Homo sapiens: one gene and its partner. The protein of the gene in region 2 purifies or fractionates together with the protein of the main gene of each other region. This does not show direct contact. Each region holds a gene or a part of one and is shown on either strand. Other genes may lie near its edges.

Region 1 (5,016 bases), on a different chromosome or scaffold from region 2:
CATTGCCCCATGGGCTCAGGTGACTCGGGGTGGAGTGAGCACGTCTGCAGGGCCCTCTCATACACGCCTGAGGCAGAAGCAGCGTCCCCCGTGAAAGCCACCTTCCGAAGCTCCTGCGTTTTTTGCAAACTTGGCTTCCCCCAGGGGCAGGCTGGACTTTCCCTGCCCCCTATGATTGAAGTCCTCCTGCTTTTGGGGGCTGCCTTCCCAGAGTCCCCCGGGTGCTCCCCTGCCGAGGTCAGGAGCTGACCAAGCCTTGGCCCGGTGACACCTGCAGCCCTCACTCCTGTCATCCCAGGACACTTGAGGCCCAAGGAGGTGGAGTGGAGAGTGGGCTCGGGTACATGGGAGCCAGAAGCCAGATGGACTTGGTCAAGTGTCGGTCACTTGGAGCCTCCAGTGTGCGTCAGGGTCTGTGGGCAGGGGACAGGGCGTGGGTGGGGGCCGAGGCTGGCACGCCCCTCTGCCCTCACCGTCTTGGTGACCTGGCCTCGGCCCCTCCCCCAAGTCTCTTCTGTGCAAGGCCCGCCTCGGCCTCGGCAGCTGGTTCCTGTCCTGTTTTCTGTGTCTGAAAGTTTACAGGTTGTGGTGCATCAGCCCAAACTCACTGGCGTTGTGTTTTTTTTTTCTTTAATTTTCAGATTTTTTTTTTAAACAAAGTATTTTTTTAGGTGCGATAACCCAGAAAGGGCCCGTTGGGTGTGTGTGTGTGTCCTGAACTCCTCAAGCAGCGATTGGAGCCCAAGCACCCCTGGAGAGGAAGGGAGGGTCCCCACTGGCCCGTGGGGTCTGAGTTCAGGGGTGTGGAGGGAGCAGACTCCACCGGCCCAGGCCCAGCTAAGAGGGGGCCGACCCCTTTCCCCAGGCACAGCCCCAGGCTGGCAAAGGGAGGGCCCTGGGCTGGGTGCAAGGCGCGCCAGGAGTCCCAGCCAGGGTGGCCCCGGCGGGGGCGGGTCCAGCTTTGGAAGCCAGGCTCCCCTGTGAGCCGTGGCTTGTCTGGTCTTCGCCCACGGGAGGCTGGACAGAGGCTGTAGCCAACACAATCACCTTTACTTTGTACTCTGTGTGTATGTTTTGGTTTTCTGTGTTTTAATAAATCCTTTGGGAAAGGATTTAATCAGAGGCTTTTTCTTTTTAAGATTCAAGATTTAGAATGGGGGTGGGGGCTGGGGCCAGGGAGGAGTGGTGGGGGGTGGGGGCGTGTCCGGAAGCCTTCTCTTGCCTGGGATGGTCATTTCACGGGTGCAGGGGCTCACTGGGAAGGAGGGGAGCCCGAAACAGGGGTGTGCTGGGGTGAGGCCCCTCTCACCTGTACCCCAAACACATACCATGAGAGCTTCCCCAGGCCTGGACCTCTGTCCTTATGAGAACAGCAGCCAGCCAGGTCCCCAGAGGGACAGCAGCCTCCCAGCAAGCAGCTTTGGGCCCTCAGAGTTGGTGAAAGAGAATGTGTGTGTTGGGGGCGGCAGGGGAGGCACGCACCCTCCCTTGGCTGAATCGCTTGGGAGAGATGGGGGACAGGTCTTCTGACCACCCTGTCCCCATTCTCTGTCCCCGCTCTCTCTCCACGGGCCCTTTCCAACCCACCTGCCCTTGGCTGCAGGCTCCGGTTTGGGGGATGCCCCAGGCCCTGCTGCTGGCAGCCTTTTCCTCCCCTCCCGTGTCACCCTGGCCCAGCCCTGACCCTGAGGAAATGAGAGGAGCAAAAAGTCACAGAGACCGATGGGTTTGGGCTTTATTTATTTTGTCATTCCATAAATACGGTGGCTGTGTCGCGGTCTGAGTCTCGTTTGGAAGCTCGAGGCATAGGACAGTCTCTGCCTGGGTAGGGAATGCAGTTAGCTGAGGAACCACGGTAGGTTTAAAAAAAAAGACTCGGGGAGAGAAAAAGCACATTATTTACATGACTGGACAAGGACAGAAGGTGGGAGGAAGCCCCTGTCACTCCTTGGGACCTGGGATCTGAGCACAAAGCTGAGTGGGAAACAGTGGGGGCTCCGAAGCGTCCAGCAGGGCCAGCGCCCTCCTTTCTAGACCCCGACTGCCCTTGGTCTTCTGCCCTTTCTTGGATGGTCCTACCCAATACCTCCTCCCGAGAGGGGGGACCTGGCCCTAGGAGGCAGAGCCCCCTCACATCCTCCCTGTAGATGGGTGTGGAGCAAGCAGGACATCCAGGAACCAGGTCGTGGAAAGAGCTGCGCCAGAGGCTGACTGCATCCTGACACTGGGGCCTGGCCTCTCTGTGTTTGGCAAACCCGCAGCCTTTGGGGGCTCAGCTGCCCCAGGTGTGCCTCGCATTAAGCAGCAGTGCCCACCCTGGGCACCACCTCGCGCTGGTCCCTCTTCCAACAGTGGGTGGGGCTGGGTGGCAGTGGGGATGGGGCCAGCCACCCTCCCTGATGGCGAGGGTGGGCCACCTGCCCTCTGGCACCATTGGCCACTGCAGGACCCTGTCCGGGAAGGAAGCAGGCGACCCCCACCTGGGCCCAGGGCCATAGGCTGGGACCTCCGTTGGGAAGGGACTTCCCCACCCCACACTCACAGGGCTGCTTCTGGTGAAGCAGGCAGCAGGACTGAGTGGAGACCCCCGGGACTTGGTCTATGAGGAGGGGCAAGGGTTCTAGGCGCCAGGGGCAGCATGAAGGGGGGTCGGTAATAGCAGAAGCTGATCCCCCTCCTCCCCTCGCCCCAGCCTCTCCCCGCTGGCCTTTCTGACTTTCACAGTTTCCCAGGCCTTGGCCCGGCCAGGACTGGACAGCAGGCTCCCGCAGGACGGCAGGGTGGAGCCTTCTGGAATAGTGGCTCCTCCAGGGGCAAAGCGGGAACAGAGGTGCCTGCACTGAGGGTGCGCCCTGGGGGCAGGAGACACAGGCTTCCCTATGGAGCTAGCTGGCGAGGGGTGGGGGTGGCTTCAGTGGAGCCCTGCCCCGCGTGGTCTGCAAAGCCTGGGTACTGCTTGGGACACAGGCCTGGGCCTGTAGGTGGCACCCCGCACCTGCAGACTTACTGGCATCCCTTGCCCTCCGGCCCAAGCTGCACGGGGGCGTCACTCTGGCCTGTCCTGCCCTCTCTCCCCTCTGCCCAGCCTGTCCCAGGTGTCAGGCAGTGGGAGGGGCTAACCAGCCCTGCCCGTCTTTCCAGGGAGAGGTTCCCTGAGGTCTTTTCCTACATTGTGGGGGTGCTGTGGGGGTGCAGCCCCCAAGTCATGGGCACAGAAAACCCCAAAGACCCTTCCTTACTGAAAGGGTCCAAGCATGCGCTCCACAAAACCCAAGCCCACCAGCTCGGTGCAGAGCAGCGGCCTGGGCTGGCGGGCGGCTTTAGAGAAAGTCTACAGGGGCCGAGAGGAGTGCATCCTTGTGCACAGGGCCGGCCCCTGCTGCCACTTGCCGTGGTGTGGCCAGCAGCCACCGTGCAGCTAGGAGCACATGACCACAGGGCCTTCCGGGGCCAGGACAGAGGGGTGGCCAGACAGAGGGGCCTGCCCCACTGGGACCCCTCCCAAGCGCTCCGGGCCTCACTGGCATGAGGCTCATCATTGGTGTGTAGGAGGAAGACGGTGGGAGGCTGAGCTAGAAATCACACCGCTACGCTTTTTGTGGCTCCCAAACTGCAGAGTCAATCCCCCTGGGGTCCCTGCCCCTGCCAGCAAGGGTGGGGGTGGGTGGGGGTCAAGGGCCAGCTCGAGCTTGGTAGGCATGGCCCCTGCCGGGACCCAGTGGGGCAGGTTGGAGCAGAAAAGGATGGGAGAGGAATCTGTGGTCAGGCCCCAGATTCCTGGAGCCCTTGGAAAGTGGGAGGTGGAGGAAGACCCCCAGTGGGGAGGCCCTGCCCCAGCAACCAAGGCCCTGGCAGAAGGGGCCCCTCGATGGGCCAGACCCCTTTCCCCTCTCCCCCTACACCAAGTGGGGATTCTCAGCAGAGGAGAGGCTGGCCCTGCCCGCCCCAAGGACCCAACCAGGCCTTGGCCTGGCCTTGACTTTGGGAACCTTGGAAATCTTTGGGCCTTGACTTTGGGAATCTTGGCTGTGGCTGGGAGAAAGCTGGGTGGTCTTGGAGGATGAGCAGAGGTGACAGGCTTGGGTGGGACCGTTTGAACATCCTTCCTAACCAGTGCCTTCCCCGGCACAGACTGGACTTCGACATTGTCCGGCGAAGCAGTGGGTGGTGTCTGGCAGCGACTTGGGAGATCATTTCCCGATGACATCACAGTGTGGTGTTTTCTCTTGGATGCAAACCACACTCTTCACTTGGCTTCAAAACAGCTTAAGCGAGCGAACAGAGACTAGGAGGGAACGGAAACTGTCCGAGCAGGCGGGCGGGGGCGGCTTAGGATCTGTAGTCCTTTTTGCTGTAGGGTTTATTGCCCAAAATACTATCAATCTCGTGGATAATGGAAGATGACAGTTTCGGAAGGACCTGCGTGCAAGAACAACAACAAATCAGAATCCCACCAACAAGACGGGCCTGGCCTGGGGAGGAGGTGGGGCCAGGCTCTTCCAGATGGTCGGCTGGCCAGGCCCGGGTTGCCCCATCACATCTGGGCTCCATCTGAGGCAGATGGAGGCCACGCTGCTTTTGTGTTTCAGAAGGTTTGGGGCAGAGAGGAAGCATGCCTGGGTCTGTGCACTCCCTCTCAAATGTCAAGGTGCCCTAGAACCTTCCTGAAGGGTGGTGGCAGCAGTGACATAAAATGGAAACTCCAGGCCAAATGCTGGACTTCCATGTCCGTGACTGCTTTTTCCAGCTGCGCCTGCCTCAGCATACAGCACCGCCACCCTTCCGGGTGACACACCCGGGGACCGACTTCCACCTCGCCTTCTCACCCCCACATCCAGTTTGTCAGCCAGTCCCGGGGGCCCCACCTTCCCAAACATCCAGGATCCAACCACCACTCCCGTCTCGGACCCGCAGCTGCCACTTCCCACCAGGGCTCTCTGCTTCGACTTTTGCTTCCCAAAGCCTCCCCGATGGAGCAGCCGGAGAGCAGCCTCCCTTTCCAGGCTGAGCTGCAGC
Region 2 (9,285 bases):
GGGGACCAGAGAAGGGAGTTGGGCCAGGCAGAACGCTGTGTTTGGACAGAGGAGCTTCCACTTGGAACACGCTGAAGAACCAAAGCTCGAGGGCAGAGCCTTGCCCAGAGTGAGATGGTGAGAGGAGGGACACGGGCTCAGACTCATCACCCCTGCTTCTCACTGGCTCTGAGTGGTTTGGATTCCACAGTGGAAAGCTCAAGAGTGGGGTGGGTCATTCTAGGGAGGGTGTTCCGTGCTTGTGCACAAGTGTTGTGTTCTCTCAGTAAGAGGTAAGGGAGCTGACGACTCGCCACCCTGTCCTCAGAGCAGGGGCCTGTGGGTGACAGGACCATGAGGAGAACCATTTTCAGAGGTTACACAGAGAAAGAGGAAAACTTCAGGGATCGTATTACCAGAATGATGACAAGTGCACACACACACACACACACACACAGCAAAATAAAAATGTAAAGAAGCCTGGAAGACAGATCATTTATGTCATTTATATACCTGGAATAGGTACATTTTAGAACCTAGGGCAGAGGTCAGAATATAAATGGTTATCACACAATGCTTCACATTATCTGTGCTCATCTTGTGGGCACATACGTCCATTCTTAGGTGGTTCTTCCCATGGATGCCCCCCACGTACTCCTGACCTGTTGCAGATCATGTGTTCCACTGGAAGGCCAGCGTGGGCCCAGGAGGATGGGGCCCCTGGGGTCTAGTCCTGGTTGTTGGTTTCCAGGAGCTCTCCATCTCTTGGCTTTCCTTTGACTTCACCTACAACCCCTCAGCCTCCTATGCTGGCTGCCCTTCCTCCTGACCTTGACCGGTAGATTGAAGACTGCTGTGAAGGACTTGGTCCTGGTCATTTCTCCTCGTTGTCCATATTCTGTTTCTGCAGAAGACCTTGGTGCCATGAATGTATATATTTCTAGATGTCTTAAATTCATAAATCGTAAGTTTCTTTTTCATATTCCAGACCTAAATAAATAACTGCCTCCTTGATGTCTTAATTTGCATGTATAATTTCCCTCTCCAATGTAAAACATCTAAAGGTGAGGTCTTGACGCATCCCAACTTGTTTAACCCCTTGTCTTCCCTTTCTCAGTAAAGGGCGACACCTACCTGCCTAGTTGCTTGAGCTTGGCATTGGCTGCTTATTTCTCATGTTTTATTGATGACTAATTCCTGCTGATTCTATCATCTAAACATACCTCCTCAGTTCTCCTCACCTCCTCTCCACTCTATCTCTACTGACTCTACCTTTCTCTGGCCCAAGTCACCATCATCTTTTCCCCAGACGACTGCAATTTCCTGGTCTTTCTATTTCTTCTTCTACCTCTTCATAATTCATTCCCCTCCCAGCCTCTAAGTAAATCACATCACGTCTCTCCTCTGCTTGAAAACCATCATTGGCTTCATACCGCCCTTAAGATAAAACCTGAACACCTCACCCTATAAGATGGTACCCTTGCTAATTCTTCAATCTTATCTTGCACCTCCCTTTCCCTTGCCCATTCTCCTCCCAGCGCACGGCCTTCTTTTTGACCTTGAACACCCATGACCTTTCTAGCTCAGGGCTTTTGCACTTGTCAGTCTGGAATGCTCTTCCCTGCATTTGGCACTGTGGCCCCATTCTCTTATCTATTTTTGAGACAGAATCTCCCTCTGTCACCCAGGCTGGAGTGCAGTGGTACAATCTCGGCTCACTGCAACCTCCACCTCCCAGGTTAAAGCGATCCTCCTGCCTCAACCTCCCAAGTAGCTGGGACTACACGTGCCCTCCACCATGCCCAGATAATTTTTGCATTTTTAGTAGAGACAGAGTTTTGCCATGTTGGTCAGACTGGTCTTGAACTCCTAACCTCAGGTGATCCACCTGCCTCAGCCTCCCAAAGTGCTGGGATTACAGGCATGAGCCACCGTGCCAGGCTCCATTCTCCTCTTTGGATTGTCAGTTGAAATACTACCTCTTCAGAGGGAACTTTTCCAGCTACCCTTGCAAAGTTGAGTCCCCAAGTTCATTTCTGACATGGCATCCCATTTATCCTCCTCAAGGCATTTACTGCAATATGGAATTATTTTCCTTATTGTCTACTGTTAAAATTTTCTGTCTATAATGTAATTTATTACATGAAAATGTATGCTTATCAAAGCAGATATTTTGTATAGATCACTGCTAAATCCTCAGCACCTGGCACCATGCTGGCACTCAGTAGCTGCTCAATATATACTTTTTAAATAAATGAATGATTGCTATGACCATGGCAAACATCTGAATCTGGATACAACAACAAAAAATAACAACAAAATCTGTGCTGGCATGAAATTGGTGCTTGGTGAATGCTGGGGAAAAATCCCCTGCCATTGGAAGCCACTTGGCAGTGTTTATGGATGGAGCTGTGTCTTCCTTCACCTGGGAACTGGCATTTCTGAAGGTGTGATTGTACTCATCCTTAACATACGCTTGGGGGGAATGATCTAGGCATAGGGTTTTTCTTAAGCTAAGAAATGAGTCTATTTCACAAAAGAACTAAAAACAGAACTCTGATTCATGAATTTGCCAATGGCTTGTCCTTCTCAGGGGAACCTCCCTGGGCACAGTGAAACCCTTCTTGGGGCACGACCTCATGCTTGATGTGAAGGTCATCACAGAACATCAGCTCTGCCTGAAGGGTGGCCGGCAGCCCAGTCAGGCTTAACCCGAGGGGTACTCAAACGGAGGTTCTTGACACCTTATCAGGGTGTGTACGCTTCTGCAGAACGAAGGTTCCTTCCCATGCTTTGCCAGGATTGGTTTTGAAGAATTACTGACCTAGTTGACAGTCTCGTGAATAAAAATGGCAATGATGAAAACAAACCTGCAAATGAATCATTCATTATGAATTTGAAAACAAAAACAAAAAGAATCAGGGGTTAGTCAATTTATGACTCAGAAAATAATGACAGATAACTGGATAAGGGTAAAGTGACAGATAACTGGATGGGGGTAAAGAGTATCTTCTATAGTGTATTTGCTGTTGGTTTCCTTTTTTTTCTTTTCTTTCAAAAAGATTTTTTAAACAGAGCAACTTTTGTGTGGAGTCTAAATGGCTTAATTACATAGTCTGTAAGTGAGAAAACTCCGCTGGATGACTCCATGTACTTGCTTTCTCTCCCTTCACGGAAACATGCAAGGTGAGAGAAAGGAGTGGAAATGAGACAGGCAAGCATGAGATGGGCAAGCTGGCTGCTTTCCTGTTGTGATGTGGTTTGGAGAAAAAAGAACAAAAGCCCTTTACTCAAGCTGTAACTCCCAGCCAGTCAGCATCAAAGGCCCAAGAAGCTATTAACCACAAATTAATTAACCCCTTGCTTTAGAGAACTAAGGACCTTTCTGAGGCCCTACGTGCCTAGCTAGGCTTAACTTTCACCTCATCATGAACTTTTCCTTATTTTAGTACTAAAAATCATGCCCACAGGTGGAGATTTAAGATGCTAATGAGACATATGTTGTATGAAGCAGCATCTTAAGCCACCGTACATGTGCCCGAAAAACCTCACCTCTACATGCCCTGACTTCCCCTTACTGCAGACCTCCACAAAGGGAACCCACACCTTGACTTTGGAGAGCAACCCACTTCCTTTCTTGGTGTTTGGTCCCTTATGTCCATAAGCTTTCATAAAATCTTTCTCTTTGCTACTGTATGCTGTGATCTCTTTTGATTTCTATCCTGGGGGATCAAAAAAGCCCACAGGGCGTTGGTGCCAGAAATCAGCTGTGCAAGCACAGAAAGGGAGCAGAGGCTGTTGCCTGGCTCAACTGGTGAGGAGCAAGACTGGAGAATGAGCATGCAGTGAGTTCTAATACTAGCACATTTCTTACCCACTCAACACCTGATCCCTTCCCGACACATCCAGGAGCCTTGGTTCTCTCCTTCCTCCAACTCTCTGAGAGTGAATGCTGCTGAGAACCACTGTGGTTTTAAAATACTCCGTGCAATACAAAGAACTCTCAGATGCATCCTGTGGTTTGAGAGCACCTTTATGTGTCATTCTCATCATTAACCTCAATGAATGCATACTAATGATCTAATATGCACCAGAAGCTACACAAAAACACTTTGTAGTTGTTAGCCAATTCATTTTGGCTACAGCCAGCCAGAAAAGAGGAAACTGAGGCACAGAGAAGCAAATGTCAACCCTACCTGGAAGTGTCAGTCTGAAAAGATCAGTTGAGTCTTCCTCTACCAGACCCCAACTTGTCTGGTCTCGTGAAGAAAGACAGAAATGGATGGAAAACCATTCTTATCACCTTCTTGCTGGAGAGTTAGGGAAGAGTCAGCTGGTCCCTAACAACAAACTTTGCCCTACTCCAGTACTGCCAAAGGGGTCTTTGTTGTAACATGGCCTACAAGGAGAGGACATCTTTCTGGGAAAGCACCTAGAATGTGGCTGGCACATATTCAATGCCCAGTAAATGTAGCTATTATTTTTTCAATCAACACTCTTACATACCCCTTTTCCACTCACCCTCTTCTCCCTTTTTTTGGTCACCCAATAAGCAGAAATTCCAGATGCATCCTTCGGGGTGGTTGGGAGCAAAGGATCCCCAGGGTGCACTGTGCCCTGGGCTGAGGTATCTCTGAGGTGCTTCCATCTTCTGGGTCCTTCCTCACTGGGGTTGTTGCCTCAGGCTCTCAGGACTCCCCTGGAAATCTTCTGATGGGAAAGGCATTGATTGACTTGCCACCCTTTCTCTACCATCCCTTTGCAATTCTGGGAGAGTTGCAGCCCCGCCCTCCCAGGCTTGCAAAGGTAGACGGAGAATTATATTGGAATTTAAATCGGAAGCTCTCAAGGCATCTCAAAAATACTTTCTCTATTTTTTTTTTCCTGTAGATATTGGAGAGGTTGGCAAACGGGTCTTCCTGAAGACAGAAGAATGTATGATTTAATGTTTTCTTTAGATTTCTGTATGAGTGGATGCACAGTGCTCCGTATTGTGTGGTGGGGCGGGGTGTGTCTTCTTATTGATGAAATACACTGCGCAGGTCAACTCGGTAAATTGAAATGAGAAGAGCCGACTGCGGGGGTGGAGGGGGTGTGGTATTAGGGTGCCGGCGCTTGTGGAGGGGGGCGCGAATGTGAACGTGTGAAAGCGAGAGGCGTGCCAGGAGAGCGCGGGAAAGCTTACTGGTGAGGCAAGTGTGCGTCTATTTCCATGGCGCCCTGGCTCGCGGCAGCCCCTGGCTGGGCGAGGGGTGTGATGTGGGAGTGGGGTGGGAGGGGGCAGCAGGCGGGGCCTGCCACGTCACTTGGAGAGTGTGTGTTGGGAAGGAAGGGCAGAGCGGAGAGCCGAGCCGCTGCAGCTGCGGCGGCGGCAGCGAAGCCTTGAGCCGTGGGGAGGTGGGTCCCCGCGCTCGGGCGCCGGGGCAGCCCCGGGCCCTCTGCGAGGCCTGCGGCGCGGCTCCTAGGGAGGAGGTGGCGGCTGTGGCGGCCGGAACCGCGACCTTGGCCGGACCCAGCCCCGCGGTGGACGCAGGGCGGAGGCCGAGCCCCGCCAGGAGTCTTTGCCGAGCCGGAGGGAGGCGCATCTGGCGCTTCGGTACCAGCGGCAGCCGGGGGTCCGGAGCGGCTGGAGGAGCGCAGTGGGAACTGGGAAGAGCTAGCCCGGCTGGAGGGCGGACCTCTGCGTCCGGGAGCCGGGTCTCAGGCACCGCTGGGGGCGAAGCCACGCGTCTTTTCGGGCAGCCAATTTCACACGCGCCTGTGTGCGGTTCCGGGCATCCCAGTAAGCTCTAGCACCCGGGCGCGGGTAACGGGAAGCGCAGAACCAAATCCCCAGCGCCCAGGTCACCTCCCCAGACCCAGCCTTGCAGGGACCAGGGCTTTAGGGCTCACGGACCCAACGGCCAGGTCAGACCGCGAACCGGGAGGAGCGCGGGCCCCACCCTAAAGAGGGCGCAGCCGGGAGCTGGGGAGCGGGTGCCGCGCTCCAGAGATTGTGTCGTGGGCGCCGTCCTAGTGGCGGGGAGCGCACCTCCGAGGGGGCATGAGATCGGAGAAATCCCTTACGCTGGCGGCGCCGGGGGAGGTCCGTGGGCCGGAGGGAGAGCAACAGGATGCGGGAGACTTCCCGGAGGCCGGCGGGGGCGGGGGCTGCTGTAGTAGCGAGCGGCTGGTGATCAATATCTCCGGGCTGCGCTTTGAGACACAATTGCGCACCCTGTCGCTGTTTCCGGACACGCTGCTCGGAGACCCTGGCCGGCGAGTCCGCTTCTTCGACCCCCTGAGGAACGAGTACTTCTTCGACCGCAACCGGCCCAGCTTCGACGCCATCCTCTACTACTACCAGTCTGGGGGCCGCCTGCGGAGGCCGGTCAACGTGCCCCTGGACATTTTCCTGGAGGAGATCCGCTTCTACCAGCTGGGGGACGAGGCCCTGGCGGCCTTCCGGGAGGACGAGGGCTGCCTGCCCGAAGGTGGCGAGGACGAGAAGCCGCTGCCCTCCCAGCCCTTCCAGCGCCAGGTGTGGCTGCTCTTTGAGTACCCAGAGAGCTCTGGGCCGGCCAGGGGCATCGCCATCGTCTCCGTGTTGGTCATTCTCATCTCCATAGTCATCTTTTGCCTGGAGACCTTACCCCAGTTCCGTGTAGATGGTCGAGGTGGAAACAATGGTGGTGTGAGTCGAGTCTCCCCAGTTTCCAGGGGGAGTCAGGAGGAAGAGGAGGATGAAGACGATTCCTACACATTTCATCATGGCATCACCCCTGGGGAAATGGGGACCGGGGGCTCCTCCTCACTCAGTACTCTTGGGGGCTCCTTCTTTACAGACCCCTTCTTTCTGGTGGAGACGCTGTGCATTGTCTGGTTCACTTTTGAGCTCCTGGTGCGCTTCTCCGCCTGCCCTAGCAAGCCGGCCTTCTTCCGGAACATCATGAACATCATTGACTTGGTGGCTATCTTCCCCTACTTCATCACCCTGGGCACTGAGCTGGTGCAGCAGCAGGAGCAGCAACCAGCCAGTGGAGGAGGCGGCCAGAATGGGCAGCAGGCCATGTCCCTGGCCATCCTCCGAGTCATCCGCCTGGTCCGGGTGTTCCGCATCTTCAAGCTCTCCCGCCACTCCAAGGGGCTGCAGATCCTGGGCAAGACCTTGCAGGCCTCCATGAGGGAGCTGGGGCTGCTCATCTTCTTCCTCTTCATCGGGGTCATCCTCTTCTCCAGTGCCGTCTACTTCGCAGAGGCTGACGATGACGATTCGCTTTTTCCCAGCATCCCGGATGCCTTCTGGTGGGCAGTGGTTACAATGACCACGGTAGGTTACGGGGACATGTACCCCATGACTGTGGGGGGAAAGATCGTGGGCTCGCTGTGTGCCATCGCTGGGGTCCTCACCATTGCCCTGCCTGTGCCCGTCATCGTCTCCAACTTCAACTACTTCTACCACCGGGAGACGGAGCAGGAGGAGCAAGGCCAGTATACCCACGTCACTTGTGGGCAGCCTGCGCCGGACCTGAGGGCAACTGACAACGGACTTGGCAAGCCTGACTTCCCCGAGGCTAACCGGGAACGGAGACCCAGCTACCTTCCTACACCACATCGGGCCTATGCAGAGAAAAGAATGCTCACGGAGGTCTGACCCATGCAGGCAGGGCCTGCAGGAGGGGAGCACTGAGCTAACAGTCTCTTAGGCTTCCTTCTCATTTCCACTACTCACTCTAGCTTCAGTTGACTTCTTGACTCTCTCCCCTACACCCACTACCTGGCATCCAGGACCAAATACCTGGACTATCAACCTTGTTGCTTAATCCCTGCAGCATTCAAGGTTAATCCATCTAAGTGACATTTTTGAAATTCCAGCGGTGCCACCCAATCATGCCCAGCTTCTGTCATATGAATGAGATATACATTTATGTCTGACCTTCCCTCAAGACTGATTTTTCATGTCTGGGACTTACAATATCTCAAGGAACAGCAATGTCAACAGGATGGAAACCAGCCCTATCTGAGTCTTCGCTCCCTCCTTAGTGTTCTTTGCTTTGGGTCATGTGCGTTTCCTAGCTTCAGGCTACTTGGTAACTGGAAGAAGCTGGAGGACAGAAGCAGTACTCAACTTGCTGTTATTCCAGTGCCCTGTAACAATCACTGGTCCTCCTGCAGATGACCCTTGGTAGAGTCTTTATTTGCATAGCCTCAAAATAGGTTATTCGTTTCTAAACTTGGATGGAATTAGAGAATACAATCAAACTTTACCACTTGGAGGACACGGGGTTAGTCCAGGACCAAAGAGGCCAATGGATTTTTCAAAGTGTGCCCCAGCACAAGAGGCACTGGTGTTCGGTCTACATTTAGTTCTCCCCACTCTGATCCCCTGACTCTCCAGCTTCCAGGAAGGTTCCTTCTCAGAGCCAAATACTCTTTGTGCAAGTGCCTTCCTGAGCAGAAGAACTGGAGAAAGGGAACCACAGAGCCAGGAGGAATGTCTGAGCAGAGTCAAGCAACTGGCTTGACCACAGTCTGAAGCAAGGTGCCACTTAAACAGATACTGTTTTCTCAAAGGGGCAGAGGAATCGTGTTGCAGATGGCAGCCTTTTCTCCTTCATTTTCCCCACATTTTCTCTGGCCCTCTACCTTGCTTCCTGGGAGTTTGATTTAGGATTGCTGTTGAAGGCTTCCTCAGGCAAACTCCAGCTTAAAGCCCTAGACAGGTAAAAGCACACATTGGATGGCAGCATGGGTTTCTTCCCATTTTATGGGCATGAAATATGTGGTTTAGAATAAGGAACAAGCATTATTCCTTTGCCAACAGCCTCACTCTAAGAGGCTTTTTTGCTGAGTCAAGCAAACACTTGCCTGCTCTGCCCCTTGGAGCTGCATTTGACCTGCTCTCACTGGTAAGGTGACTTGGTGGCGTTCCCACTTGATTTAGCCATTTTCTTCCATTGTGAGACCACTGCCATCTATCCACCTGCCCACCTCCCCTTTTGTTTCTCAGTAACATTGCCATTTGTTTTTTGCCTTTGATAAACTGTGATGTACTGTTCTGAGATCTTTTGGGTGCAGTTCTGAAACTGAAAGGACTGTTAACATGTTTTTAATTTTATATCTATGCTTTCAGACTCTTTGATGATAATTTTTTTTTTAAAAATTATTCTCTCGAAGAGCAACTTACGAGAGGACAGCCTTATGAGGGTTTGCTTGAGAGGCAGTGTGGCTTCTGTGACTGCCAGCTCTAAATCTCGATCTTGCCATAACTTTACAGGGTAACTTGGGTCCACAGTCACTCTTTGTGCCTCAGTTTACCCACCCATT

The links. The genes of interacting proteins can lie anywhere in the genome.
Region 1: the proteins of KCNA6 (region 2) and KCNAB2 purify together in Homo sapiens (affinity purification with mass spectrometry; 3 studies listed by BioGRID and IntAct, with this or other methods). This does not show direct contact.

What each region holds. Positions count from the first base shown.
Region 1 is NC_000001.11:6,097,888-6,102,903, reverse strand, and holds the end of KCNAB2 (voltage-gated potassium channel subunit beta-2), read right to left. Parts: intron 4,420-5,016; coding exon 4,330-4,419; 3' UTR 1,724-4,329; downstream 1-1,723.
Region 2 is NC_000012.12:4,804,020-4,813,304, forward strand, and holds the start of KCNA6 (potassium voltage-gated channel subfamily A member 6), read left to right. Parts: upstream 1-5,314; 5' UTR 5,315-6,022; coding exon 6,023-7,612; 3' UTR 7,613-9,285. UniProt on the Homo sapiens protein: Voltage-gated potassium channel that mediates transmembrane potassium transport in excitable membranes. Forms tetrameric potassium-selective channels through which potassium ions pass in accordance with their electrochemical gradient.